Regions from separate parts of the Homo sapiens genome. Here all the other regions are linked to region 3. The links come from fine-mapping of genetic effects on gene expression. A gene starts in region 3. Each other region holds a variant in brackets. All regions are shown on one strand. Distances are from middle to middle.

Region 1 (6,067 bases), 90 kb after region 3:
GCGGAAATTCTGATGGGATCTGTTATAAAAAAGCTATTGGAACCAGTAAGTAAATTCTTCAAGGCTGCAGGATAGAAGATCAATATACAACAATTATATTTCTATATACTGGCAGTTAATAATTGGAAATTGAATTTACAACCCAATATCACTTATATGCAATAGCATCAAAAATACGAAATACTTAGGGATGCGTGAGACCTAAGTACTATAAACTAAGACATTGTTGAGAGAAATTAAAGAGTACCACAATAAGTGGAGACAGATACTGTGTTCATGGATTCGAAGACACTTTATCAGTTTGGGCTGCTATAACAATACCATAGACTGGGTGGCTTACAATACAAAACAAATATTTTTTACAGTTCTGGAGGCTGAAAGTCCCATATCAGGGTGCCACCATGGTTGGGTTCTTGATGAGGACCCTATTCTTGGCTCACGGATGGTTGTCTCCTCGCATCCTTCCATGGCTGAGAGCAGAGACAGAGAAAGCAAACTCTCTTCTGTCTCCTCCTATAGGGGCACCATCCCATCATGAGGATTGCCCTCTTGTGACCTAACTACCCCCAAGGGCTCCTGTCTCTAACGACCATCACACTGAGGATTAGGGTTTCAGTTATGAATTTGGGGGTGGGGACAGAAGCATTCAGTCTGTAACAGCAATATTAAGAGGTCAGCTCTCTTCAAATTGATAGAGATTCAACACCATGCCTGTCAAGATTCCAGCATACTTTGTAGAAATTGACAAGCTGATCTAAAATTCGGATGCAAATTCTATGGACTTAGAATAGCCTAAACAACTTTGAAAGATAACAAAGTTAGAGGATTGACCATCTGACCTAAAGACTCTTTTAAAGCTACAGTAATCAAGACTGTGTGGTGTGGCTGGGCACGGTGGCTTATGCCTGTAATCCCAGCGCTTTGGGAGGCCAAGGCAGGCAGATCACTTGAGGTCAGGAGTTCGAGACAAGCCTGACCAACATGGTGAAACCCTGTGTCTACTAAAAATACAAAAATTAGCCTGGTGTGGTGCATGCACCTGTAATCCCAGCTACTTGGGAGTCTGAGGCAGGAGAATCGCTTGAACCTGGGAGGCGGAGGTTGCAGTGAGCCGAGACGTGCCACTGCACTCCAGCCTGGATGACAGAGCAAGACTTTGTCTCAAAAAAAAAAAAAAAAAAAAGTGCATGATGTTAGCATAAAGATAAACAGATCAAATCAGCAGAATAGACTGTCCAGGATTAGATACATACATATATTGTCAATTGATTTTTGACAAAGGTGCCAAGGGAATTTAGTGGGAAGATGATTTTTTTTTAAACAAATGGTGCTAGAACAATTTTTTAATTATAGGCAAAAAATGAACTTCAGTCCATACCTGGCACCATTCGCAAACTGTAACTCAAGGGATCATCGACTTAAATGTAAATCCTAAAACTATGAAACTTGTAGAAGAAAATGTAGGAGAAAGTCTTTGTAACATTGAACTAGGCCATAATTTTTTAGGTAGGATAGCGAAAGCACAATCCATAAAAGAAAAAAATGGATAAATTGGACTTCTAATAAATTTTGTTCTTTAAAGATACTGTTAAGAGAATAAAGAGAGTCTACAGACTGGGAGAAAATATTGACAAATCACATACCTTATAAAGGAGTTGTATTCAGAGCCCATAAAGAACTTGTCAAACTCAGTAATTAAAAAAAAATGAAAAAATGGGCAACAGATTTGAAGAGATACTTAGCTAAAAAAGACATGAATAGATGGCAAATAAGCTCATGAACAGATGTTCACATCATTATTTATTAGATAAATGGGAATTAAAACAGCAATAAGATATTCCTGTGTACCTGCCAGAATGGTTAAAATATTATTTTTAGTGAAAATGTGGATGAACTTGATCTCTGCTGGTGAGAGACTGTAAAATACAACCACTTTGGAAAACATTTTGGCAGTTTCTTAAAATGTTAAACAGGTATCTACCATATGACCTATGTATTTCCCAAAAGAAATGATCGCATAGGTCTACACAGACTTGTACATGAGCATTTATGACTATTTTATTTTTAATAGCCACAAATTGGGAACAACATAGATTGTTTGCAGGTGAATGGATGCAGTCCAATAGCGATTCAATCTAATCTCAAAATAGTTGTGCTAGATAACAGAAGCCAGACAAAAACAAGAGTATATATCACACAATCCATTTGTATAATGTTCTAGAAAATCCATCTTTTTTTTATTTTATTTTATTATTATTCTACTTTAAGTTTTAGGTTACATGTGCACAACGTGCAGGCTTGTTACATATGTATACATGTGCCATGTTGGTGTGCTGCACCCATCATCTCCTCATTTAGCATTAGGTATATCTCCTAATGCTATCCCTCCCCCCTCCCCCCACCCCACAACAGTCCCCGGTGTGTGATATTCCCCTTCCTGTGTCCATGTGTTCTCATTGTTCAATTCCCACCTATGAGTGAGAACATGCGGTGTTTGGTTTTTTGTCCTTGCGATAGTTTGCTGAGAATGATGGGTTCCAGTTTCATCCATGTCCCTACAAAGGACATGAACTCATCCTTTTTTATGGCTGCATAGTATTCCATGGTGTATATGTGCCACATTTTCTTAATCCAGTCTATCATTGTTGGATATTTGGGTTGGTTCCAAGTCTTTTCTATTGTGAATAGTGCCACAATAAACATACGTGTGCATGTGTCTTTATAGCAGCATGATTTATAATCCTTTGGGTATATACCTAGTAATGGGATGGCTGGGTCAAATGGCATTTCTAGTTCTAGATCCTTGAGGAATCGCCACACTGACTTCCACAAGGGTTGACAGTCCCACCAACAGTGCAAAAGTGTTCCTATTTCTCCACATCCTCTCCAGCACCTGTTGTTTCCTGACTTTTTAATGATCGCCATTCTAACTGGTGTGAGATGGTGTCTCATTGTGGTTTTGATTTGCATTTCTCTGATGGCCAGTGATGATGAGCATTTTTTCATGTGTTTTTTGGCTGCATAAATGTCTTCTTTTGAGAAGTGTCTGTTCATATCCTTCGCCCACTTTTTGATGGGGTTGTTTGTTTTTTTCCTGTAAATTTGTTTGAGTTCATTGTAGATTCTGGATATTAGCCCTTTGTCAGATGAGTAAGTTGCAAAAATTTTCTCCCATTTTGTAAGTTGCCTGTTCACTCTGATGGTGGTTTCTTTTGCTGTGCAGAAGCTCTTGAGTTTAATTAGATCCCATTTGTCAATTTTGGCTTTTGTTGCCATTGCTTTTGGTGTTTTAGACATGAAGTCCTTGCCCATGCCTATGTCCTGAATGGTAATGCCTAGGGTTTCTTCTAGGGTTTTTATGGTTTTAGGTCTAACATGTAAGTCTTTAATCCATCTTGAATTAATTTTTGTATAAAGTGTAAGGAAGGGATCCAGTTTCAGCTTTCTACATATGACTAGCCAGTTCTCCCAGCACCATTTATTAAATAGGGAATCCTTTCCCCATTTCTTGTTTTTGTCAGGTTTGTCAAAGATCAGATAGTTGTAGACATGCGGCATTATTTCTGAGTTCTTTTCTAAAGTGCAGAGTCAGTGGCTGACTGGGAATC[AGG/G]GGGAGGTGGGGAGTGGCAGGGGGCAGGGATTATAAAAGGATATGAGAAAATTTGGGGGTGATGGATGTGTTTATGTTCATTAGCTTAATTGTGGTGATGGTGTCATTGGTGCATTCTCATGACAAAACTTATCAAATTATATACTCCATGTGTAGCTTATTTTATGTAGTTCAATAAAGCTGTTAAAAATTAATATTTCTTATATTTGTATATGTTATAATTTTGTTCATTTTGTACTGACAATTGAGAATTAATTCTGAGACTACTTCTTTAGTTCAGCCTGTGACCTTTTTCCTGAGAGAGTCTTTTCCTGTTAACATTTAGCTATATGGATTGTAATATTGTTTGTTTATGGAACTCATTTTTATTGATTACTCAGCACTGTAGCAGGCATTGGGAAATAAAAAATGAGGTGTAGAAATATATTCATGCCTCATGGACCTTTGATCTAGAGATTTGTAATCATACATTTGCAAGCATCTCTAAAGAATATAAGAAGTTTAGGGGCCAGGCGTGGTGGCCCATGCCTGTAATCCCAGCACTTTGGAAGGCCGAAGCGAGTGGATCACCTGAGGTCAGGGGTTCAAGAGCAGCCCAGCCAACATGGTGAAACTCCGTCTCCACTGAAAATACAAAAATTAGCCTGGCGCAGTGGCGCGTGCCTGTTATCCCAGCTACTCAGGAGGCTGAGGCAGGAGAATCGCTTGAACCCGGGAGGCGGAGATTGCGGTGAGCCGAGATTGCGCCATTGCACTCCAGCCTGGGCAACAGAGTGAGACTCCATCTGAAAAAAAAAAGGTTAGGAAATGGTGGAATTTATGTTGCCTAAAAACATTACAGCATATTAGAAGGAATAGCTTAAGTTTTTCTTGCTCTGGGACAAGGGCACGTTTCTGAACCTGAAGTCCGTCTGTAAAACGGGGGACCTTCCCTCATAAAATATTAAGGTGGTAGCTGGCTGAGTGCAGTGGCTCACATCTGTAATCCCAGCACTTTGGGAGGCTGAGGTGAGTGGATCGCTTGAGCCCAGGAGTTTGAGACCAGACTGGACAACATGGTGAAACCTCATCTCTACAAAAAATACAAAAATCAGCCTGGCACGGTGGCATGTGCCTATAGTCTCAGCTACTTGGTAGGCTGAGGCGGGAGGATCACCTGAGTCTGGGAAGTCAAGGCTGCAGTGAGCCATGATCACACCACTGTCTCAGAAAAAAAGATAGCATCTTAACGTATCCAGAACAATGCCTACTATGTTACATACCTAACAGTGACAGGCATACCTTGGAGATACTGCAGGGTTGGTTCCAGTGTACTGTGATGAAGCGAATGTGGCAATAAAGTGAATCACACAAATTTTTTGATTTCTCAGAGCATATAAAAATTATACTTAACACTATAATGCCATTTATTAAGTGTGCAATAGCAATGTGTGTACATGCCTTTATTGCTAAAAAATGGTAACAATTATCTGAGCCTTTAGTGAGCTGTAATCTTTTTGCTGGTGGAGGTCTTGCCTTGATTTTGCTAAAGGTTGCGTGACCGTGGCAATTTCTTAAAATAAGACAACAGTGTAGTTTGCCATATTGATTGACTCTTCCTTTCACAAAAGATTTCTGTGTAGCATGTGATGCTGTTTGACAGCATTTTACTCACAGTAGAAGTTCTTTCAAAATTGAAGTCCATCCTCTCAAACCCTGCCTCTGTTTTATCAACTAAGTTTATGATATTCTAAGTCCTTTATTGTCATTTCCACAATGTTCACAGCATCTTCACCAGGGTAGATTCCATCTCAAGAAACCACTTTCTTTGTTCATCCCTAAGAAGCAGCTCCTCGTTCATTTCAAGTTTTATCATGAGATTGCAGCAATTCAGTCACATCTTCAGGATCCACCTCTAATTCCAGTCCTCTTGCTATTTTTACCACATCTGCAGAGACTTTCTCCACTGACATCTCAAACCCATCACTTCCAAACTCCAGGTGAGGTTGATATTTTGACCTCCCATGAATCACAGATATTCTTAATGGCATCTAGAATGGTGCATCCTTTCCAGAAGGTTTTCAGTTTACTTTGCACAATCCATCAGAGGAATCTGTAGCAGGTATAGCCTTACAGAATGTATCTTAAATAATATGACTTGAAAGTCAGAATTACTCCTTGATCCATGGGCTACAGAATGGATGTTGTGTTAAGGCATGAAAATATTGATCTTTTTAAACATCTCCACCAGGGCTCTTTCATCTCCATCAGCAGGTGCATTGTCAATGAGCAGTAGTATTTTGAAAATCTTTTTTTTTTTTTTTTTTGAGTAGCAAGTCTTAACAGTAGGCTTAAACTATTTAGTAAACCATGCTGTAAACAGATGTGCTGCCATCCGGGCAGGTTTGTTGTTCTTGTTTATAGACCACAGGCAGAATGGGCTTAGGATAATTCTTAAGGGTTTTAGGATTTCTGGAA
Region 2 (6,067 bases), 120 kb after region 3:
GTACATGGATTTTATATCCTGAAACTTTGCTGGCATTGCTTATTAGATCCAGCAGCTTTTGAGCAGACACTATGGGATTTTCTAGATATGAAATTATATCATCTGCAAACAGAGATAATTTGACTTCCTCTTCCTATATGAATGCCTCTCCTCTCCCCTCCCTTCCCCTCCCCTCCCCTCCTCTCCTCTCTTCTCTTTTCGTTTTTTGTCGTCCAGGCCGAAGTGCAGTGGCACAATCTCGGCTTGCTGCAACCTCTGCCTCCCGGGTTCAAGCTATTCTCCTGCCTCAGTCTCCCTAGTAGTTGGGACTACAGGTGCCTGCCACCACGCCCAGCTAATTTTTTTATTTTTAGTAGATGCAGGATTTCACTGTGTTGGTCAGGCTGGTCTCAAATGCCTGACCTCAGGTGATCCACCCAGCTCGGCCTCCCAAAGTGTTGGGATTACAGGTGCGAGCCACCACACCCAGCCTTTTATTTCTTTCTCTTGCCAGATTGCTCTGGCCAGGACTTCCCAGTAATATGCTGAATAGGAGTGGTGAGAATGGGCATCCTTGTCTTGTTACGGTTCTCAAGGGGCTATGCTTCCAGCTTTTGCCTGTTCCATATGATGTTGGCTGTGGGTTTGTCAAAGATGGCTCTTATTATTTTCACATATGTTCCTTCAAAGCCTAGTTTGTTGAGAGTTTTTAACATGAAGGGATGTTGAATTTTATAGAAAGCTTTTTCTGCATCCGTTGAGATGATCATGTGGTTTTCTTTTTGAGATGGAGTCTCGCTCTGTCACCCAGGCTGGAGTGCAGTGGTACGATCTTGGCTCACTGCAACCTCTGCCTCCCAGGTTCAAGTGATTCTCCTGCCTCAGCCTTCTGAGTAGCTGGGATTACAGGCTTGCGCTACCATGCCTGGCTAATTTTTGTATTTTTAGTAGAGACGGGGTTTCACCATGTTGGTCAGGCTGGTCTTGAACCCCTGACCTCATGATCCACCTGCCTCAGCCTCCCAAAGTGCTGGGATTACAGACATGAGCCACCACGCCTGGCTGATCATGTGGTTTTTGTTTTTAGTTTTGTTTATTTGATGAATCACATTTATTGATTTGAGTGTGTTGAACCAACCTTCCATCCCAGGGATAAAGCCTACTTGATCATGGTGGATTAGCTTTTTGATGTGCTGCTGGATTTGGTTTGCTAGTATTTTGTTGAGGATTTTGCATCTGTGTTTATCAAGAATATTGGTGTGAAGTTTTCTTTTTCTTTTTGTGTCTTAGCCAGGTTTTGGTATCAGAATGATGCTGGCCTCATAGAATGAGTTAGGGAGGTGTCCTTTATTTTTAAATTTTTGGAATAGTTTCAGTAGGAATGGTACCAGCTGTTCTTTAAATATTTGATAGGATTCGGTCATGAATTTATCTGATCCTGAGCGTTTTCTAGTCAGTTGGCTTTTTATTACAGACTCGGTTTCAGAACTCATTATTCATCTGTTCAGGGTTTGAATTTCTTCCTGGTTCAGTCTTGGGAGGCTGTATGTTTCCCGGAATGTTTGTATGTTTATCCATTTCTGCTAAGTTTTCTAGTTTGTATGCATGAAAGTGTTCATAATAGTCCCTGATGGTTTTTTGTATTTCTGTGGGGTCAGTGGTAATGCCGTCTTTGTCACTTCTGATTGTGATTATTTGGATCTTCTTTTTATCTTTATTAGTCTAGCTAGCAGTCTATCTACCTTATTTTTTCTTTCAAAGAATCAACTCCTGGTTTCATTGATCTTTCATATGGTTTTTCGTGTCTCTATTTCATTCAGAACAGCTCTGATTTTGGTTATTTCTTGTCTTCTGGTAGCTTTGGGGTTGGTTTGCTCTTGTTTTTCTAGTTCCTCAAGTCGTTTGTTTTCCCATTTATTGACAGTTATACTTGGTATTCTTTTTAAAATCTTATGTCTTGATTACATTTTTTTCATATTTCTAATGTGTTTTTGCTACTTTATTTTGTTGATTTTTCTAGCCAGACATTTATCAGAATTCTTTTGAATTCTGAATTCTTCGATTTATTTTTTCCTACTTTTTTGCTCTTTTTTATTATACTTACTTTAATTTCCTGTTGTATTTTGTTTTATTTATTTGTTTCTGAGACAGGATTTCACTCTGTTGCCCAGGTTAGAGTGCACTAGCGCGATCATAGCTCACTGTAACCTCAAACTCCTGGGCTCAAGTGATCTTCCCACTTCAGCCTCCCAAGTAGCTGGGACTACAGGTGTGTGCTTCCATGCCCATCTCATTTTAAAATTTTTGTTAGAGATAAGGTCTTGCTATGTTGCCCAGGCTGGTCTTGAACTTCTGGGCTCAAATGATCCTCCTGCCTCCCCCTTTAAAAGTACTAGGATTACAAGCATGAGCCATCGTGCCTGGCCTATTTCTTCCTGTATTGTGGTTTGCTAGGATTTATTTTGTTGTTCCTTTTACAAATTCTTGAGTTGAGTGCTTCATTTTTATTTTTATTTTTTCTTTCATAATAAAACTCATTTATTTGAGCATCTGAATACAGATTTTCTACACTTTATGTTTTTATAAAGTATTCTTGTTTTGTTACTTTTTAGTTGGCCTATGATTGCATTAGTGTATTTTAATTTAAGCTTTGTTGTTAATTTTTTGCATTCAGATATTTTGACTTATTCTCTGTTGTTAATGCAGTAGTTCTGATGCAGTTTAGAACTTGATATATTTTGTTGGGCAGGGTGGTGCGCACTTGTAATCCCAGCTACTCAGGGGGCTGAGATGGGAGGATCACTTGAGCCTAGGAGTTAGAGACCAGCCTGGGAAACATAGTGAGATCTCATCTTAAAAAAAAAGATAGACATACTTTTTGTAGTTTAATTTCAAATTCATTTTTGTAAATTTTCCTTTAGTGATTGAAATAGAGGTATATTCCCTATAAGGGATTACTTTAGGTTTATTAAGTCAACCTTGTTATTATTTTTCAGATTCTGTGTATCATTGTTAATATTTTTTCATTCTTGGGCAGTCACAGACTGATAGAGTGGTGTGTCAGGAGAGGCGGTCTGCATGGGCCGTAAGCATTCCTGCGTTTTCTTTCTGGGTGTGCCAAGACTGTGAGGTCTTGACTGCTCTTTACCTGGGCCATTTGTTAGGGTTGTGTTTCTTCTGAGCAAACTTGAGGGATGAAGTGATGGCTCCCTCTGGGCCACAGAGCAGCCTGGCTTATTACCACGTGCTGTGAAAACAGTGGATTCCCCACGCTCACTGTTCTTTAGCTGCTGCACAGATCTGTCGCATATGCAACATCCATCCATAAGACTTGGGAGCAGGGGAAATGACCTGCTGGCACTCATGCCTCTTGCTGTACCGGAGTAATAAAATCCTTTGCTTCTGATCCAGGAGTCTTGTGTCTCCTGCCAGCATCCATGTAACAGCAACAGGCTAACTTATTAATTTGTAAGGATAGAACCAGACCCCAGACCTGACAGTTTTGGCAATGAGATTGGATGGTGCAGAG[A/G]AAGAACAAGGACCTTGTATTCCAGGTTTAGTGATATGAAAAGACCTTCAGATCTGGTGGTGGATGTGCTCAACTCAGTGGTGAGAGGGAGGCGGAGGAGGAAGGGCCCCTGGTAATTACATTACTCCTACCTGTAATGAGTCTGAATGGTGCTTTGGCTGTCGTTCATTCCTCTCCTGTTGTAAGACGAAGGAATGTTGGTATGACACCAGGGCAGTAAGCCCCCAGCTCCAGTCAGAAGGCATTATGGGTGTGGCTGCTGAGTCAAGGAGTCTCAGTCCTGAAATGAGTGGTGCCTCAGCTTCCTGAAGCACTGGGATTACAGGTGTGAGCTACTGAGCCTGGCATCAGGTGACTTTTTGAGTAGGGTGTTTGGGCTTATTCCATCTGTGATGTAGCTTGCACTGCTGACTCTATATTAAATTGGTATTCGTGTTTTACATGATCATACTATGCAAGCTTGGCCTCAGGGACTGTGCCTTCCCTTTGGCCCAATATAAACAGTATAGGGCCCCAGGAGGAGAAGCGAATATCTCAGCTTTTGTGAGAGACTTAATAGCTCACAAATACTCCAGGAGGCCATTTCCTAAAATAGCAGGTGCCTCTCCTGCCTGCCACTGCCTCCGAGTGGACTCCTGAGAAAGGACAGCTGTGAATCTGCTGCTCAGCTCTTGTTGAAATGGATTACCCAACCTGTGGGGCCATGTGACTCTCTAGCCTGGCATCCCTCTTCTGGGGTGGAACAATTTAGATTCCATGTCCAGTAAAATGGAAGAAGCTTAACAGGCCTCCTAGCCAAATAAAAATGGTCTCTTCCAGAGCTCAACCTGCCTGGCGCTACCTGGTATCAAGGTTTCATGTGAAAAAGTGGCAGATACCTCCTGGGGGAAACCCTATTTCCTAATCCACTGCTGAAGCCAAACCACCCAGTTAGGCCCTCAATCCCCTGAGCCCTCCTAATGTCGAGGCTGGGCTCTCTGACCTTTGGCTGCATCAGAAGCTGATGGTATTCACTGAGTGGTGGCAGCCCATCACAATGGAGGCATACTTAGGAATTTTTTATTTTTAAAATTCTAAATGAATTTCTTATCAAATTTGCATAAACATGCTAAATATAATGAATAAAGGTTTTCTGTTGTATTTATTTATTTACTTTTTTGTTTTTTTTTGAGACCGAGTCACTCTGTTGCCCAGGCTAGAGTGTAGTGGTGCAGTCTTGGCTCACTGCAACGCAACCTCCGCCTCCCAGGTTCAAGCGATTCTCCTGCCTCAGCCTCCCAAGTAGCTGGGATTACAGCTAATCTTTGTGTTTTTAGTAGAGACGGGCTTTCACCATGCTGGTCTTGAACTCCTGACCTCAAGGGATCCATCCCCCTTGGCCTCCTAAAGTGCTGGGATTACAGGTGTGAGCCACTGTGCCCAGCCTCGTTTTCTGTTTATTTAAATATTGTATAAAGAATAATAACAATGAAGCGCTATGTACTCACCAGTTAATCTAAAGAAATAGAACATAATAATATAGTGGATAGTAAATTTCTTCAATATGAAATGTCCTACTTTATCCCATTTAATGTTTTTTGTTTTGCATTCTTCTGTATTTAAACCAGACTCCTGTACATTTTTAAAAAATTAAACAATAATTTTTAATCATTTTCACTTTTTTTAGTATCACTTTCGTTTTGATAGGTCTTAGACAGTTAATTGTGTTTTTTGACCTAATTTGCATATATAGTTATAGTAGATATATTTGGTTTTTATCATTTCCTGTTTTCGTATTTTATATATTTTGTTATGTTTATATTTTGCTAAACTTGATTTTCTGTTTTTTACTATATTAACTATTACATTTTTGTTCTGTTTTCTAGTATCTTAGTAATATTACTTTTGATACTAGTTACTATTACTGTTACTAGTTTTATTATTTTGATACTAGTAAGATTAGTGGTAACCTTAAGTTTTTAGTAGCATTATTTAACTTTAATTTCTCTGCTGTCAGTAAAAAGTGAAATATTATCGTTTTAAATGACCCCTATTTAAAATGGAATTTTTTCTTTAACTCTTTTTTTCTCATCTGAATGTCACTTCTTAATGTATAAGATAATAAAAAATTATTAAATGATTTATCTTTCAAAAATATTTTTTGGCATTGCATTTTAGTTTATAACTATATATATCGTTATTTATATTTCTCTTTATTTAGAAAAAATTTGTCATTGTTCACCAACAATTCCGTGCAGTCACTTCACAGTCCTTTGTGAAGGACCAGGTAGGATGGTGACGTGGGCTCCTGTACTCAGCAGAGCCGTGAGTTTGAGTCCGTCTGCTTCCTAAAGTTCCCCTGCATGCTCAGGGGGGTCTGTACGGCTTTTACACCCCTGAAGGACAGGGAGACCCCCACTTTACCCCATCATCTTTTTTCCTAAGCATCTGAGGTCAGAATTGGGGGAGGACAGTTGAATGAGCATGGCAAAAGCGACTGGCCCACACCGTTAAGCAAGGCGCGTTTCATTTTGAGTGGCTAGTGGCTACTCATGGCTCAACCAAATTTGTAATGACATC
Region 3 (6,067 bases):
ACTTTGTTTTAGAGATTCATCTGTATTGCTGCTTGCAGCTATTGTTCACTAATTTTTCAGAATCGCATTCTGTCCCACGAACATATCAGTTTATTTACCCATTCCACCGTGGATAGACAGCTGGGCTATTTGTAGACTTCTGCTAGTTCAAGTGGCACAGCTGTGGGGATTCTCATTCACATCTCTTGGTGTACATGCTCAAGAGCTTTTCTAGGATACATGGGTAGGAGTGCAACTGCTAGTTGCTTATCTTCAGCTTTACTGGATAATGCCAAATTATTTACAGAGATATCATATTGGTTCACACGACCTCCAGTGGCACAGAATTTCTACTGTTCCACATTCTTGTGACACTCAATATTGTCAAATTAGAAGAATTTTGCCCACCCAATGAAAGTGAAAAGGTACTTCATTTAGGTTTCAATTTGCATGTCCTGGGTATTGTTGAGATGAAACATATTTTTAAATGTTTATTGCCAGCCATGTTCTTCTGATATGAAATGAAACTTCATATCCACACAGCATATCTTGGTGGCCAGGAGGTGTCATCATCACATTTTAAGAACTCTGTGTCTTTTCTCCAAAACTTGTTCTAACTGCAGCCTTCCCCCCCTTTGGTGATGCAACTGTCCTTCTGGCTGCTAAGGCAGATGCCTTGGAGCCCTCCCTGTCTTTCTCTTTTTCTGACCACATCCCCATGTGATAGGAAATCCTGATAGGAAATCCTCCTTTCAAAATGCATTCAGAAACCGACCGCCTCTCACCTCCTCTGCTGCCTCCACCCTGGTCCAGGTCACTAGGCTCTGAATTTCTGCAATAAGTCTTCCTCATTTGCTGTCCAGGCCCTGAGCAGCAGTCAGATCACATCACACCTGTCAATAACCCACAGTGGCTCCTAACCTCTCCCAGAATAAAAGCCAAAGCCGTTACAATGGCCCATGTGGTCTTATACAACAGCGTTTAGGGATGTGGGAAAGAGGGTGTTGGCTGGGGTGATGGAGGTGACCAGGTCACCTATCTTCAGCTGGGCTGGGGCTTATGATGCAGTGGCCAGTGGCCATTGAGGGTCCCTAGGGTCCGTAAGAAAGGGCAAGTCCTAATGTACAAGCACTTTCCTATAGTTTTGTATTTTTCAATGTCCCACTGGCTAGAGCAGGTCACCCAGCCAGGCTGATTCCAGGGCTGGAAAGTAGAGTCCATTTCTTGCTGGGAGGAAGGACAAAGCCAGATGGCAGAGGGTGAGCGTATAGGGAGTGGTGAGTACGTGGCCATTGTTGAAGTTGACTACCCTGGGTTAAGTGTTACAAGTACCAGTGGTGGGTAAACCTCTAGGGATGATTGCATAAAAGAAAATCAAAAGGTCTAGATGGTTGGAGTATTGCATTAAAAAGATGAGGAATACTACATGCATTCACTTTCTGGAATCTGTGTTTAAATGCCATACACTTTAAAATCTAATCTGCTTGCCCTCTGATTTGGAGAGAATTAACCCAGAAATTATCCAGGTTCTTTAGGGCTCCAAGACATTCTAAAAAATAAAGGTGAACGTTGAATTTAACCAGTTGACAGTTGTTCTTGGATTATGATCAATCAGCCTGTGGCAGCAGGGCACATGCTGAGAACAAGCCTCAGGTTCTCTAAGTTCTCCCACCACCACAATGTTCAGCTATAGTGAACTCATAGAAACCGTGTGTCGGGGCCTCCAACTTCGCCAAGCACCATAAGAAGTTTGAGTTGTGAAAAAATTTTCTCTACTCAAAATTGTGAAGAGAAACGGCAAGGTTTAAATTACCACATATTTGTCTTTGAAGAACTTTACAACAACTTCATTGACTGTTAAATTTAGATTCATAAAAATCTAAACAACGGCCGGGCGCGGTGGCTCAGGCCTGTAATCCCAGCACTTTGGGAGGACGAGGTGGGCGGATCACCTGAGGTCAGGAGTTCAAGAACAGCTTGGCCAACGTGGTGAAACCCCGTCTCTACTAAAAATACAAAAATTAGCTGGGCGTGGTGGCGGGCGCCTGTAATCCCAGCTACTCGGGAGGCTGAGGCAGGAGAATCACTTGAACCCAAGAGGCAGAGGTTGTTGTGAGCAGAGATCGCCATTGCACTCCAGCCTGGGCGACAAGAGTGAAACTCTGTCTCAAAAAAAAAAAAAACAAAAACAAAAACTAAATGACATTTGAAAGCAATTTGTAGATTTTCACACTTCCTAAGAATTCTCAAAGATGCCAAAAACAAAAATCGCAGCCACTAGCAATTTAAATGACTTCCTCGTAGCCAAATAAATCCTAAGGTAAAATTATAAACATTCCCTTAAATTCAAATTTTATAACAAAAAGAAAGATAATAGGGAACGGAGGGTGAATTATTGTGTTTGATATATTTGGCGGTGAAAAATACATATATTACGTGCTGTTTAGGGTCCACTGAGAGTCATAAAACTGACCCTAGTGACCGAGCTACCGGAAGGACTTGGCAAGGGTCTAGCGAGCTCGGTTATCTGCGTTTTCCAGGTGGGGCAGCCCAAGACCCTTCTCAGACCCAGAGAAGCTGGGTTTCCGCCCAAAGCCCGGCCCCAAACCACCGATTTCCGACCTTTCAACCTACTTTGGCAGAGCAAGAGTTTCCGCGGGAGACTCCCTGCTTCCCTCTGCCCAGGTCCCCTGAGGCCGAGTGCGGTACTGAGTGCTGAGTAAGGGGTGCCGAGTGCCAAGCACTGAGTAACTGGGGGAGGGGAACCATGCAGCTGTCATAAATAATTAGCTCCTGTGAGGAACAGGAACTCCGAGACTGCGGCCGGGCCAGGTGGGCAGAGGTCGCAGCGCCCTCGCCGCGTTCCCCGTCCCCATCCGACGCCAGGACAGCGCCTCCTTAACTGGGGTAGCCCCTGAGAGCGTGGGCGGAGCCCCGCCCCGCGACCTCAAGGCCCCGCCCCCTCAGCGCCTCCCGGCCCAGCAGCTCGGAAGACCGCGAGGCGCGCTTTTCTGACGCATCGGCGCCTTTCGTCTGACGTATGCCTGCACCGCCCCCTCCCCTCCCTGCCCCGCCCCCGCCCCGCCCCCGACTGCGCGGCGCCCGCCCTCCCTTAGTCAGAGCTGCTCGTCTGAGGCTGCTGAGGCGACGGCCGGTGTCGTGGTCGCGGTACCTGTTCCAACACGGCTCGCGGGCCCGTGCCGGCTCCGGTCCCCGGCGCGGCTGTCCGAGCCCCTGCGGCGGGCGGACGATGGTGTGGCGGAGCACGCGGACGCGGGCGGCGCGGCGGCGGGCATGAAGGAGGATGGAAGGGCAGGACGAGGTGTCGGCGCGGGAGCAGCACTTCCACAGCCAAGTGCGGGAGTCCACGGTGCGTGGGGACCGAGGCAGCCCTGACAGTCCCGCGTGCCCGCCCGGGCCCTCCGTCCCCGCCCCCGGGCCCCCGGTCCCCGGACCCCTCACCTCCGGGCCTCGCCTCGCGCCTCCCGCCCCGGCCTCTGCCGCTCTCCCTCCCCACCCCTCCTCTCCCCTCCCCTCCCCTTCCCTCCCCACCTCTCCTCTCCCCTCCCCTCCCCTTCGCTTCCTCTGCCTGCCCCCCCGCTCCGCTCTTGCCTCCCCTGCCCCCTCGCGCTCCCTCCGTTCGAGCCCCGACCCCGCCCCCGCCCCGCGGCCTCGGTGCTGCCCTTCCCTTCCCGCGGGGAGGGCTGCGGTGCGCGCCGCGCTCTGGGACCCCAGGGGCTTCCTCTCTGGGCGGGTGTGCGGCTCGCGCCTCGGGGTGTGGACGGCGGCCCCGCCAGTGCGCGCCCCCGCGCTCCGCCGCCAGGCCAGGTAGGCAGGTGGATGCGCAGGCGTCCCGGAGAGCCTGGGTGGGCCCGGCGGGTCCGGGAAGGGCCGGGCTGCGCGGAGCCCGCCCGCCTCTCGCGTTTGGACCCGGCCGGTTACCTTGTCCCGGTCAACACCTCCTGCCCTCCTGGCGCCTCACGTTTCCATCCCTCTTTCATCTCCCCCAGCCCCCACGTGGGTTGAGTTCGAAACCTTACCGTTTGGGATGAGAATATTGGTTATTTTTGGGAGTGAGGACCTCAGCAAAAGTCCATTTTGCTATGGAAGCAACTTCTTAGGGAAGCAGCTTCTTTTTTGGCCCATGTTCCATGTGTGCTGTTGGCAGGAGTCAGGAAGCGGACTTGACCTTGGAAAGTCTACTTTGATGTTTTTATCTTTTCATGATGCTCTAGAATGTATTGTAATTGGGTTTATCTGTGTTTTCATAACTGTTGTAAAATATGTCAATTTTTTATGTTTATATTTACGCCTCTCCTAAGTTGTCTACGATTCAGTCACACTTGGTTTGAGGTGAAAAAATTCTGCTTTAGAATTATCTAATTTGTGTACTCACTGATCTTGAAAATTGAGAATCACTTTGGAAGTCATACTTTGAATAAAGAGGACATATAAAGTCTGAGCTGGTGGAATTTGAGTTAGTGGAATTTGGTACACATTTAGTTGTAATTTTTATAATTGAAGCTAAAATACACAGAGATAAGTTCATGTAATCATACATGTACCCTTCAGATCATTTCATACTAAACACGCCTGTGTACTCCTGAATCCACCAGGAGTTTGAGACTGGTCAGCCTGGGCAACATAGTGAATCCCCATCTCTACCATTATAAAAAAATAAATAAATAAACACAATTTTACTAGGATCCCAGAGACTGATTCCTTTCCCTCTTCCAATTACTTTCTCCTCCACCAAGGGTAAACGTTGCCCTGGCTTCTAATATCATAGATTAGTTTTTGCTTAGTTTTGAACTTTATGTAAATGGAATCTTACCGTATATACTCTTCTGTGTCCAGTTTCTTGTACAATGTTTGTGAAATTTCTCCATGTTGTATGTGGTTATAATTCATTCTCGGTGCAGTAGTTGTGTGACTATAGCACAATTTATTTTTCATTTTACTGTTGATGGGCACTTCAGTAGTTTCTAGGTTTTGGCTATGAATATATATATGTGTATATATATGTGTATGTATATATGTGTGTGTGTGTGTGTGTGTGTGTGTATATATATATATATATATATATTTTTTTTTTTTTTTTTTTTTTGTGATGGAGTCTCGCTCTGTCTCCCAGGCTGGAGTGCAGTGGCACAATCTCGGCTCACTGCAACCTCTGCCTCCGGGATTCAAGTGATTCTCCTACCTCAGCCTCCTGAATAGCTGGGATTACAGGCACACACCACCACACCCAGCTAATTTTTCTATTTTTATTAGAGACGGGGTTTCTCCATGCTGGCCAGGCTGGCCTTGAACTCCTGACCTCAGGTGATCCACCTGCCTTGGCCTCCCAAAGTGCTGGGATTACAGGCATGAGCCACCACGCCGGGCTGGCTATGAACTTTTTGTACATAGCTTTTGGTGGACATGTTTGTGCATTTCTGTTGGGGATAGCCCTAGGAATGGAATCCCTAGGTTAAAGAGTGTGCATTTGTTCATCTTTAGTAGATACTTTAAAACAATTTTCCAAAGTGGTTGTACCAGTGTACACTTCCGCCAGTACTGACAGTCTCAGAGGTGTGGTTGTTACTCATCTTTATCAATACTTGATATTTTCTGTCCTTTTTAATTTTAGTCATTCTAGCAAGTGTGTTATAGTGTTCATCATACAAATAATTTTAATTTGCATTTTCCTGATAACTAATGAATTTGAGCACCTGTTTGTTTATTAGCCATTTGGAAATCTTGTGAAGGGTCAAATTTTTTTCCCCATTTAAAAATTAAGTTTATCTTTTTAATATTGATTTGCAAGGTCTTTACAGAATAACTTGTATTATATTGTTATACAGGTGGATATGATTTCTTTGTCAGAAATATATACTGCACATATTTCTTTCCCACTCTGTGGATGCCTTTCACTTTTAATGATATCTTCTGATGAACAGAAATTATTAATTTTAATATAGTTCAATTTATTAAAATTTTTTTGAGTACTTTTAATGTCCCGATTAAGAAATCTCTCCTTACTCTAAGACTGATGTTCTCTTCTTCTTTTCTCTAAATGCTTTATTGAATTACTCTTCTCATTTAA
Region 4 (6,067 bases), 42 kb after region 3:
AGAGTTGTTGACTTTCAGTTTGTTCAGTTTTTTTCTTGTTACGAGGATGGGAAAGATGACTTCCAAGCTCCTTTCATGTTGGACTGGAAGCCAGAAGCCACTATGTTATCTTTTACCTTTATGTCTGATTTACTTGAAGATTGCTTTTAGTGTATGGCATATGATGTATATAGGTGGTTTTTTTTTTTTTTTTAATTTTATTCTATGTGGGCCAGGCACGATGGCACATGCCTGTAATCCCAGCATTTTAGGAGGCTGAGGTGGGTGGATCACCTGAGGTAGGAGTTCGGGACCAGCCTGGCCAACATGATGAAGCCCCATCTCTACCAAAAATACAAAAATTAGCCGGGTGTGGTGGCAGGTGCCTGTAATCCCAGCTACTTGGGAGGCTGAGGCGGGAGAATTCCTTGAACCCAGGAAGTGGAGGTTGCAGTGAGCTGAGATCACGCCACTGCACTCCAGTCTCAGTGACAGGATGACACTTTGTCTCAAAAAACAAAAACAAACAAAAGCTTTATTCTATGTGGTGACTTCCTTTGGGTTCATCATTTGGCAGCTGCTTGAGAATCTTCATTTGATACCCAGTTTCTGCATAGATTTAATCCAGAGAAGTTATTCTAGGACTTTTAGAAAGTGGTTCTATTTTACTTTTAATTTTAAATACAGTTTTGGATGGCATGACAAAAATTAGTGTAAATGTTTTTCTTTCTAAAGCACAGGGTGTGAGATCATAAGGGATAGTGCTTTTTTTTTTCTTTTAACATTAAGTAGTTTGGAATGATCTGTCCCTTAATCTGGCTAATATTTCTTTATGTGACCCATTTTTTTTTAAAAGAGAAAGGAATGTGCTTATTACAATATATTAGTGAAATTAGTATTAACATTTTCTACTGTGGCAACTTACAATAAAAAATGAAGCATTATTCGGCCGGGTGCGGTGGCTCACGCCTGTAATTCCAGCACTTTGGGAGGCCAAGGCGGGCAGATCATGAGGTCAGGAGATCGAGACCATCCTGGCTAACACAGTGAAATCCCGTCTCTACTAAAAATACAAAAAATTAGCCGGGTGTGGTGACGGGTGCCTGTAGTCCCAGCTACTTGGGAGGCCGAGGCGGGAAAATGGCCTGAACCTGGGAGGCAGAGCTTGCAATGAGCTGAGATCGGGCCACTGCACTCCAGCCTGGGCGACAGATTGAGACTCTGTCTCAAAAAAAAAAAAAAGCATTATTTGTAATTTACTGTTCAAGTTATGTTGTATATGTAATTACTTCTGTGCTTATCTTCTGTACTTTTTTGGCAGTTAATCTAAAACAGAGTTTCTCAACGTTGGCACTGTTGACATTCTGGACAGATTGTTCTTTATTGTTCGGGTCTGTTCTGTGCATCATGGGATTTTAACAGCATCTCTGTTCTCTGACCCCAGATGCTAGTAGCACGATTCACCTGGTTGTGACAACTAAACTGTCCCCAGACATTGCAACATGTCTCCTGGGGGGGACATTGTCACCCTCAGTTGAGAATCATAGGTCTCAACCCTGTTTAGCAAAAGGCAATAATGTAAAGATTTTATTTGGTGTTACTTTTCCAAATAACGTAAAACTCCAAGTGAGAATCATAGATAGATCTCTAAAGGATTACTTGAAAATTATTGTGTCAGGGGTGTAGAAGCCTATAATTTTTTAAATCTAATGCATGCATCAGATAGTATAGAAACATGCTATCCATCAGATAGTACAGGAAACCTTAAGAAGAATAAGGCTCCTATCCAAGTATTTTCCATAAGCAATCTCTTATTTTTTTTTAGTTTTTCTAAGTGATTTCTGTAATGCTTGGTAATATTTGTTGGCTTACCAACATTGAACACGTATATTGACTTCCCAATACAGACACTGAGGATTTAACTACTAGCTTTCTGATAGGATTTACACTACAGTAGTGAGTATTCACACTACTTTGTTTTTCCCATTTCCTCTGGTGTTTATTGTTATATTATTATTTGTTATTCTCTTGGTTACCCTTTTGAGACCTGGACCGAAATCTTTATTACTTGTTATATTACTTTGTTCCTAGAGGTGTGTTCTTAAAGTCTCAAGTGGCAGCTATTATTGTGATTCTTGTTGCTAGTAGTAGTAATGGTAACCTAATTATCTAAAAGTGGAGGAATGTTTCTTTATTGTAATATAAATTCCCAGGAATAACAGTATTGAATCAGAGTGCATACATAGGCCATCATATTGCTTTCCTGAAAGGTTATTAGAATAAATTTTATTGTGTTCATTTTGAAAATAGTACTTTCATCCTGTGTAAATAAAAGTCCTTATTGTTAAAACTTTAATTTTTTCATAGATCTAAGGAAGAAGGTAAAAGGGTAAAAATAATCTGAAATTCCACCATTCTGAAATAAGCACATTGTTTCATACCTCTATGTATATCTATACGACTTAAATAATTTTACATTAGTCACTATGTGTTTACTGTTTTTATGTGCGAGTATCTTTACTTTTTCTCTCTCCATTGTTTTTGGCTTACAATCATGACTTATTTCTACCCTCTTCTCTCCTCACTCCCCAGCCCCCCAACTTTACCATCTCCTCAAGAAACCAGTAGGAAGAGTAATCTGGTGTATAGTCGTCCATTCTTGTTACTGGGCCTAAAATATTTCACAGCATGTTGTATTAAAGTATAATATTATTGATGACATTAATGAACTTGAAATATGCTGTGATAATCTTGAAAAAGTGAATATTTACCCCTTGCTAAGGGTCTTAGTGTTTTCTGTGAGGAAGCATTGCTTTGCCTTTATTGAAGCACAAGTTGAAAGACACAGGGCAATTTATTATGACAGTTTAGCAACTATGAGAAGAGTAGGTATCAGCATGTGTATTGTATTCAAATTAATTGTTCTGAAGATAGGGCATTGGTAATTTTGTTTACTTCTCTGTTTTGAAGGGTGTGTTAGTTCATTTTGCGTTGCTGTAAAGGAATACCTGAGACTGAGTAATTTATAAGGAAAAGATAGTTATTTTGGCACACAGTTCTGCAGGCTCTTTGAGAAGCATATTGCCGGCATCTGCTTCTGTTGAAGACCTCAGAAAGCTTCCAATCATGACAGAAGGTGAAGTGGCGGGTGTCATATGGCGAGAGGGAGCAAGAGGGAATGGATAAAGAGAGAGAAAGGAGGTGCCAAAGTCCTTAAACAACCAGATCCTGTGTGAACTAATAGAACTTACTCATCACCAAGGGGAGGGCACCAAGCCATTCATGAGGGATCTGCCTCCATGATCCAAACACTTCCACCAGGGTTCACCTCCAACAGTGGGGATCACGCTTCAACATGAAATTCTGAGGGGACACACATCCAAACCATTTCAAAGGGTGATTTGTTGCAATTACAAACAATAGAAAAGTGAACATCTTTATATATACATCCTTGTGTGGGTATACAATTGTATTTGAAAGGAATGCTTTCAGCTGCAAGCAAAAATATACCCAATGTGTTTTTAATGAAACAGAGGTTTTTCTCATAAAATGTCTGGAGGAAAGAACTATTGTTACATGCTACAGCATGGATGAACCTTGAAAACATTACGCTAAGTGAAAGAAGCCAGACACAAAAAGGCACATACTGTATGATTTTATTTATATGAAATACCCAGAATAGGCAAATACATAAAAACAGAAAGTAGATTGGTGGTTA[C/T]AAGAGTCTAAGCAGGGTGGGAGGAATATAGGACATTGAATTTAATAAACACATTTGTTACTAGCTGTCTTAGTCTGTTTTGTGCTACTGAAACAGAATACCACAGGCTGGATAATATATAATGAACAGAAATTTATTTGGTGTATGATTCTGGAGGCTGGGAAGCCCAAGATCAAGGGGCTGGCATCTGGCAAGGGCCTTTGTGTTGTATCATCCCATGGTGGAAGGCAGAAGGGCAAGAAGGGGGCCAGACTTGCTTTTATAACAAACCTGCTCTCACCGTAACTAACCCACTCCTGTGATAACATTAGTCAGTTTATGAGGATAGAATCCTCATGACCTGATCACTTTTGAAGCCCCACCTCAACACTGTTGCATTGGGAATTAAGTTTCAAATACATGAACTTTGGGAAACACACAAACCATAGCACTAATGCAATCGTATTACTTTTTAAAATTAGACTTTATTTTTTAGAGAAATTTTAGGTTCACAGCAAAATTGGGTGAAGGTAATGAGATTTTTCCATATATCCCTTGGCTCCACACATGCATAGCCTTGGCCATTATCAGCATCCCCCACCAGAGTGGAAAATTTGTTATGGTTGATGACCTTGGGTTGAACATCATGACTTAGATTCCATAGTTTACATTAGTGTTCACTCTGGTGGTGTACATTCCATGGGTTTGGAAAATTTTATAAGAACATGTATCTAACCTTATAGAATCATACAGAATAGTTTCACTGTCCTTAAAAGTTCTCTAAGCTCTGCCTGTTCATTCCTTCCTCCCCTCAACCCCTGGCAACAAACAACTGATGCTTTTAGTGTCTCCACAGTTTTGTTTTGCCTTTTCCGGAATATAGTTGGAATCATACAAATGTTGCCATTTCAAATTGACTTCTTTCACTTAGCAGCAAGCATTTAAGTTTCCTCCATGACTTTTCATTGCTTTGACAGCTCTTTTAATTTTTAACTTTTATTTAGGTTCAGGGGCACATGTACAGGTTTGTTACTATGTTTCACAGGGGTTTGGTGTACAGATTATTTTGTCACCCAGATAAGAAACGTAGTACCTGATTGGTAGTTTTTCCATCCTCTCCCTCCCATCCTCAAGTAGACCCTGATGTCTCTTGTTCCCTATGTCCATGTGTTCTCAGTATTTAGCCCCCTCTTATAAATGAGAACATGTGGTATTTGGTTTCCTGTTCTTGTGTTAGTTCACTTAGGATAATGGTCTCTAGCTCCAGCTCCATCCATGTCGCTGCAAAGGACATGATCTCATTCACTTTTATGGCTGCATACTATTCCATGGTATGTACATACCACATTTTCTTTATCCATTCTACTGTTGATGGTCATTTAGGTTGATTCCATGTCTTTGCTATTGTGAATAGTGCTCTGAAGAATATAATGCATGTATGTGTCTTTACGGTAGAATGATTTATATTCCTTCGGGTCTGTAGCCAATAATTGGATTGCTGGGTCAAATGGTAGTACTGTTTTTGTTTTGTTTTGTTTTGCTTTTTTTTTTTTTTTTGAGACAGAGTCTTGCTTTGTCGCCCAGGCTGCGGTGTCATGGTACGATCTCTGCTCACTGCAGCCTCCGCCTCCCAGGTTCAAGTGATTCTTGTACTTGAGCTTCCCTAGTAGCTGGGACCACAGGCTCCTGCCACCACAGCCAGCTAATCTTTGTATTTTTAGTAGAGACGGGGTTTCACCATGATCCCAGGTTGTTCTAGAACTCCTGACTTCAAGTGATCCACCCACCTTGGCCTCCCAAAGTGCTGGGATTACAGGGGTGAGTCACCATGCCCAGCCAGTATTTCTCTTTTAAATGGTTTGAGAAATTGCCACACTGCTTTCCACAGTGACTGAACTAATTGACAGTTCCACTAGCCAGTTTATAAGCATTCCCTTTTCTCTGCAACCTCACCAGCATCTGTTATTTTTTGACTTTTTAATAATAGCCACTCTGACTTGGTGTGAGATGTGATTTTGATTTGCATTTCTCTAATGATTAATAATGCTGAGCATTTTTTCATATGCTTGTTGGCTGCATGTATGTCTTCTTTTGAAAAGTGTCTTTTCTTGTCCTGTGCCCACTTTTTAGTGGGGTTGCTTTTATTAGACCTTTGTCAGATGCATAGTTTGCAAATGTTTTCTCCTATTCTGTAGGTTGTCATTTACGGTTGATATTTCTTTAGTTGTACAGAAGCTGTTTAGTTTAATTAGATTCCCATTTGTCAATTTTTGTTTTTGTTGCAGTTGCTTTTAGTGTCTTTGTCATGAAGTCTTTGTCAGGGCCTGTGTCCAGAATGGTATTTCCTAGGTTTTCTTCCAGAGTTCTATAGTTTTAGGTTTTACATTTAAG
Region 5 (6,067 bases), 220 kb after region 3:
TGCTGGGTTATTCTGAGCCCATGCCATGTGCACACCCACTTGGCCTCTTCCTCTTAGGCCTACACCCTGCCCTTTCCTTGCCCCTTGTAGTTACTGTGGCTGGAGTGATGAGCGCCACTCCCAAGCATGGCCTGGAACAATGTCCTCCTGCCCCTCCACCAGCAGTGACAGGATTCACTGGGGACTCGGGGGCAAAGGAGACTGTGTCACAAGACAAAAGGAGCCAGGGTCACACATGGTGTACCCTCGCCCTGCCTCACCCATGGCTGACATGGGTTGGACACCTCAGAAATCATGTGTCTTCAGCGAGCCACTGAGAGTTGGGGCTTTATCTGTTACTCGGCTAGGGGTAACCTAACCGATGAGACTGTAACTGGTTACTGTAAATAACCAAGCTCCCAGTAATAGTAAACCAGTGACAAAAACAATTCTTATCCAAAAAGGTTCACTTTTTTTTAAAATGTGTGAACTAAAACAGTCTTTATTGCTCTAAGACATTAAAATTTGCACTTTTTTGATGTTGAATACCACTGAATATTTTATTTTTATATTTTATTACACAGAAATACAGCAATTATTACAAAACGAGTATTAGGAATGGCAAAGGCTTTAGGACAGACTATTAGCGGAAAACATTTGGAACTTAAGGAGTGTTTTACATTTGGAACTTACTTTAAGGAGTGTCGTTCAGACACTAGCTATATCTTAACCTCAATTTTTAGAAGTAAGCAAGCTCTCATTTTTTGCTATTCATATTTGAAGTGATTAAACTCATAAATTTGAAATTTACTTTTTAGAGACCAAAGATTAAAATTAGGTGGGATGTCAGCTTTTAAAATATACTAAGATTTCCTACAACTACCAATAGCTTATTTCCCTGGGAAACAGATTACATTGTAGTACTTAACCCAGAACTCATGCAGTTCATCCAAAATGATGGTAAACTTTTTTCCTCAGAATTACCTAACTTTCCTTGACTATGAATTCAACATTCAAGAATCTTCTTCTGGTAGCAGGAGCGGCAGAGAGGACAGGCATGGAAAGGAGGCCTGTCTCCCACGGAGAACTCCTCTAGTGCCAGCAGACACGCATGGTGGAACACATGTGAGCAGGACAGGAGGGCCATCTCTCTGGAACGCCTGCCTGCACCCACGCGCTGACCGCCAGCAGCGGAGAGAGGGGCCAGGCAGATGGAGCACTCGTGGGTCTCCCGGCGCAGAGCCTGCGGCACACAGGACGGGAAGAGGCCACGCGGGTTAGTTTCATCACAGCAGAAAGTTACTTAAACTGAAATGCGAACCATGTGCCCCGAGACATGGGTCTTCGAAACATGCGGAAGTTTCATTCTGTGTTAAAATCACATGCATTTTATTTATATATATACATATATATATACACACACATATACTCTGTTACTCCTGGGAACTGTGGAAAGGGTTAGTAACCCACCTGTGATAAGCAACATCCAACAGGAACTTCCAGAATTTCAAACTGAAGGGACCTTTGCCGTCACCCTAAAGCCCATGAGGAAAGTCCTACCACAGGTGCAGGGGCAGCTAGGGCAGCGGTTACCCCGGGACTGACACTCCTAGGCTTCCCAAAGTGAGTCCTCGACCTCCCCCGACATGCCACCCCCACAGCCTCCACGGCTGCACCCCGGGCCTGACACTCCTAGGCTCCCCAAAGTGAGTCCTCGACCTCCCCCCACATGCCACTCCCCACAGCCTCTGCAGCTGCAGCTGAGTCTGCTGGTTGCCAGGCTGCCAGCCAAACCTACCTGCACTTGGATTTTCTCCCATTCCTCTTCTGTGATCTCATGGCCACATTTTTCTTCCAACTGCTGAAGAACACTTCGATTTATGGCCAAGCACTGATCGATTTCTGCAAAGAGCTCTTCAATGTTGGTGTTGTATGAGCACAGGATGCGGTGGCTGATTTCTGTGAACTGAGGAGGAGGCGGGGGCGGGTAAGCTCACACCTGAGCTCGGTGGAGGTTGCAGGGAAGCGCTCTCGAGCCTGACCATCTATTTTGGTAACCTTCCTCGTCTCTGTCTTCGAATAATACTTTTTAGGGAAATAGATATATGTCTATTTTACTTAACTATAAATCCAGATAATCTGGACAGATGACCACAAGAACCCCTATCTGATGGAGTCCAGAACACACTACCCCAAAATACGGCACCTTGGCATACTGAATATTTTAAGGAAAAAACATTCCTTCCCAAAGGAATTTGAGAAATGACAGCTGCAGGAGGGACCGTCTGACCTCTCCCCACCCCTAAAGTGGGTCACAGGACCCTCCTGTGAGAGGCACCCTCGTCTCCAAAGACGGAGGGAGCCGGGAGGAGACAGCACACAGGCCTTGCCGTGGTTCCCACCGACCACCCTCAGCTCACCCCTTGTCCTGTCATGCTTCCCCACGACCTCTGTGTCCTCATCCAACCTAGCATAGAAAGCGCTCAGGCGTTACTGTCTCTTCGGGTCTCCGCTGCCCCTTCGGGTCGCCGCTGCCTCTTCGGGTCTGCACTATCTCTTCCGGTCTGCGCTGCCTTAGGAAGGCTTCCATACCACATGGGACTTACTAAGTAAATCCGTGTAATTTTCTCGTTAAGCTTAACTTACAGGGCTCCAGCTGAAGAATTTAGGAGGGTAGGGGAAAAGGGTATATTGTTTCCCTCCCCTGCTGTTTTCTTGGTTGTGAGCTTTGACCATTAGCAGGAACACATTTGAAATTAAAAGTTGAGAGAAAAGTTCGAATTTCGCAGGATCAGCTCTGTCCCATAGAAACATACTGTGAGCTACGTATGTAATTTTAAAATTTCTGGCAGTCACATTAAGTTTTTTAAAAGGTGAAATTAATTTTAATATTGTATCTGACCCAACAGATCCAAAATATTATCACTTCAACGTTTATTAATTGAATACAGTACTTTGTTTTTTTTGGTATTTTTGTTTGGTTTGGTGGAGACAGCATCTCGCTCTGTCACCCAAACTGGAGTGCTTGGGGCCATCAATGCTCACTCAGCCTCGGCCTCCCGGGCTCAAGCCATCCTACACTAGAAAGGTCTGAGTCATTACAGAGTGGCCACCAGTGTCATCTGAGGCA[C/T]GGGTAGGTGGCTCATTCAGGGCCACACCAGCGGCTCCTTTTTAGTACATGTGAAGAGTGTAAAGCAAAGGAGAATAAGGTGTGTAAAAGGTTGTGCCAATGGTGACTGTCAGCCACACTTCCTGCCCTCTTGCTTGTCCTTTCAAGTACAGAGCTGTGGCTCACCCAGAGATGACATTTCCCATTCCCCCATGCCCAGGTGGGGCCACGTGAAGTAGTTCTTCCAGATGGACGTGGCTCATGTCTCTTCTGGGTGTTCTCCAGGCCCGGGGGGTGGCAGATAAAGGGCAGAGGGAGACAGTTCCCGAGCCCCACAGGCTGGCATGTTGCCTGCAAGCCAGGACACCTGAACTGTCCTATGAGACCGAAGCTCTGGCTTTCAGTCACTGAAATTCGGGGGGTTATTTGTCCAGCAGTGAGAAGTGCCGATTCAGCAGTTACATCTGCTTCATGGAATCCGGCTTGAAGCACAAAGAAGGATGAAATGAACAAGTCCCGTGGAGATCTCACACATTTAGATATGTGATGGGGAAAATGCATTTTGGATGGTCCATGACTGTCCAGGTTTCAAATATTCTAGTCTACTGGAGTCCTCACGTTCACTTTTTCTTTTTTTTTTTTTTTTATTAATGTGGAGCAACCTGGCAGAACGTAGTGTGTATTTAAATCACCAGACTTCTGAAGGTGCCTTTGAGGACATGGAGTTCTCTTCCAATTCTCTCCCTTCTGCAAAAAGATCGTGAGACAGCGCAGGGTCGAGTGCTGTGGAGACTATGAGCTGCCTTTCTCCCTGGGATGTTAGAAGAATGAGTATTGGCTTTAAGGATGAGAGGTCCTTTTGAGTAAAGAACATTCTGTGAACACAGCAGGCAGTCCACAAGGGTTGGGGTTTGAATGAAGGGGGTGGCTGAGGATCTTCCAGGCACCTGTGTTTTGGGATTAGCCGTACTTGGAAGCCTGGTGGAAGCTGCTTTTCTATTTATGAGTCAAATTCTCTTTCACTCTGAATGTAATTATAATTGCCAAGCAGCTGTATCTTAATTTAGGGTCTTGAATCGGTAACGTTTCCTAAGGCTTTAATTTTAATTTTCTTTATTCCTTGGCCTTTCAAATATCTAATAATATCTAAATAAATTATTGAAAGTAGAAGAGTTCTCTATACATTGTAAAAGGAAAAATTACTTGGAAATATACACAGTTACCTCCAATTGATGCTTTGTAATTCAGGTTTTCTGTAAATTGTTTTTAAGTGTGAGATACTTTCCACATATGCCTGAAAAGCAAGATCTTTTCTTCCTTCAAAATTATACCTCAGAAAAAGGGTCACATTCTAGTCCAGACCTTGCAAAGTGTTTCAACTTGTGAGGTATGTTCTGAGATTAGTTTTGGACATAAAAGTACTATTTGGAATGACTGATCAATTGAATGAAATGATCGATATGATCTGGGTGTTTATTCTCAAGGTGGGGCCCAGACCCCGCAGCCTCAGCTCCTGGGAATCTGTGAGAAAAGCAGAGCTTTTCAGGCTTTGCCCCGGGCCTGCCGAGGCCACAGTCCGCGGGGTGAGCCCTGCGATATGCTTTACAGCCCTCCAGGTGATTCTGAGGCCCATTCAGGTTTAAGAACCACGGTCATAGAAGTTACCGATCACATTTTTAAATATGCAAAGTTATTTAACACAGCATTAGTTATCATTCCTGGAGGTGTCACCTCCCAACTCCAAGCATGGGTATCGCTGTGCGTGCGCTTTCAGAAGCCACTTGAGAGAGGAACAGAGTAAGTGTGCGGGCCACATATAAATATGTATGTACATCTATATGCATTTATGTTACAGTGTCACCTGTGTGTGCATATATTCTATCATACGTGAGTGTATCGCTCTCTCTACAGGATGCCTGGAGCAATCCCAGCTGTCCTGATGTTACATAAATGAGTTACTTAGCTCAAGATAAACTTCCAAAGACAGCATCATTAGGACTTTTTAAAGTACATTTTCCTTCAAACACTTTAGATGGAAATAGAGCTCATATGCTCTGAACAACTGTGTTGGGTGACTCCTAAGTGGCCCTATTGATGACAAAGACCCTGAGGTCCAATACTGATGTCACCTATTGCCTCCTTCTGCCTCAGTCACTGTGGCATACAGGTCCTATCTCCTTTATTAGTCCTGGGGCCAGGACTGTTCTTAACGCTGGTAATAGCATCCAGGGTTTTTAAAGGGTTTTGCACCTGTCGTCGTCACACCCTGCCTTTAAACCCTCTCAAGAGCTCAGTACACGCACCGACCATAGTAGGCACTTGTTGAAAGAAACAGACTTGTCAGTTTTGCATATATACCAAATAAATCTCAGGGAGGGTGGCCCTTAACACTTAGTGCTCCAGTCTTAATGGTAACTGGTGTAATATAGCAAGAAAGCAAATAAATGCTTAGGATATTTTAATATACATAAGAATCACAAACTAATTCCACACTCAGGTGTTTGATTCCACAGAAGAAAACCTAGCATGGCAGACGCAAATATTCCTTTCCACAAGTTTTGATGAAATATTCCATTCCACAAGTTTTGATATGTACTTTTGCTATTCAACTGAAATTTCTTCTCATTTCCATTATAATTTTGTCTTCGATTAATACGTTATTTAGAACCGTTTATTTTCAAACGTGAGATAGTTCTATTTTTTTAAAAAAAATTTATTTCTAGCCTCAGCTGCACCGTGGTCAGGGAACATACTCTACACGACTTAAGTTTCTTCAAGTACGTGGACATAAAGATGGTGACATGAGATACTAGGACGACTGGGGAGGGACACGGGCTGAAAAACTAACTGTTGGGGACTGTGCTCATGAGCTGGGCGACAGGACCGCCTGTACCGCAAACATCGGCGTCCTGCAGTACACCCAGTGACAAACCTGCACAGGCACCCCCGAATCTAGAAGCTGAACTTATAAAACATAAA

What was found.
Region 1: its variant is fine-mapped to the expression of LMBR1 in blood mononuclear cells (TOPMed, PIP above 0.99).
Region 2: its variant is fine-mapped to the expression of LMBR1 in whole blood (INTERVAL, PIP above 0.99).
Region 4: its variant is fine-mapped to the expression of LMBR1 in esophagus mucosa (GTEx, PIP above 0.99).
Region 5: its variant is fine-mapped to the expression of LMBR1 in whole blood (INTERVAL, PIP 0.96).

What each region holds. Positions count from the first base shown.
Region 1 is chr7:156,800,332-156,806,398 of GRCh38, reverse strand. All of the region lies in intron 4 of LMBR1 (limb development membrane protein 1), which reads left to right. Among named protein-coding and RNA genes, the nearest start is that of LMBR1, 90 kb to the left of the region's middle. The variant AGG/G (reference allele first, on the strand shown) is at 3,609.
Region 2 is chr7:156,766,970-156,773,036 of GRCh38, reverse strand. The region is part of intron 5 of LMBR1 (limb development membrane protein 1); the gene reads left to right. Among named protein-coding and RNA genes, the nearest start is that of RNF32-AS1, 110 kb to the right of the region's middle. RefSeq lists an enhancer at 4,880-6,067. The variant A/G (reference allele first, on the strand shown) is at 3,509.
Region 3 is chr7:156,890,210-156,896,276 of GRCh38, reverse strand. LMBR1 (limb development membrane protein 1) reads left to right here and starts at 3,094. Exons shown (of 17, transcript NM_022458.4): 1 at 3,094-3,349. The coding sequence starts at 3,284. It overlaps LOC102723795 (a long non-coding RNA gene), which reads right to left and starts at 2,879. Exons shown (of 4, transcript XR_928253.3): 1 at 2,614-2,879; 2 at 765-845. RefSeq lists an enhancer at 491-570 and silencers at 2,873-3,452, 3,503-4,002.
Region 4 is chr7:156,848,097-156,854,163 of GRCh38, reverse strand. All of the region lies in intron 1 of LMBR1 (limb development membrane protein 1), which reads left to right. Among named protein-coding and RNA genes, the nearest start is that of LMBR1, 42 kb to the left of the region's middle. The variant C/T (reference allele first, on the strand shown) is at 3,698.
Region 5 is chr7:156,671,574-156,677,640 of GRCh38, reverse strand. RNF32 (ring finger protein 32) reads right to left here. Exons shown (of 9, transcript NM_030936.4): 8 at 1,778-1,945; 9 at 511-1,222. The coding sequence ends at 986. It also overlaps a transcript of LMBR1 not described here. Among named protein-coding and RNA genes, the nearest start is that of RNF32-AS1, 15 kb to the right of the region's middle. The variant C/T (reference allele first, on the strand shown) is at 3,110.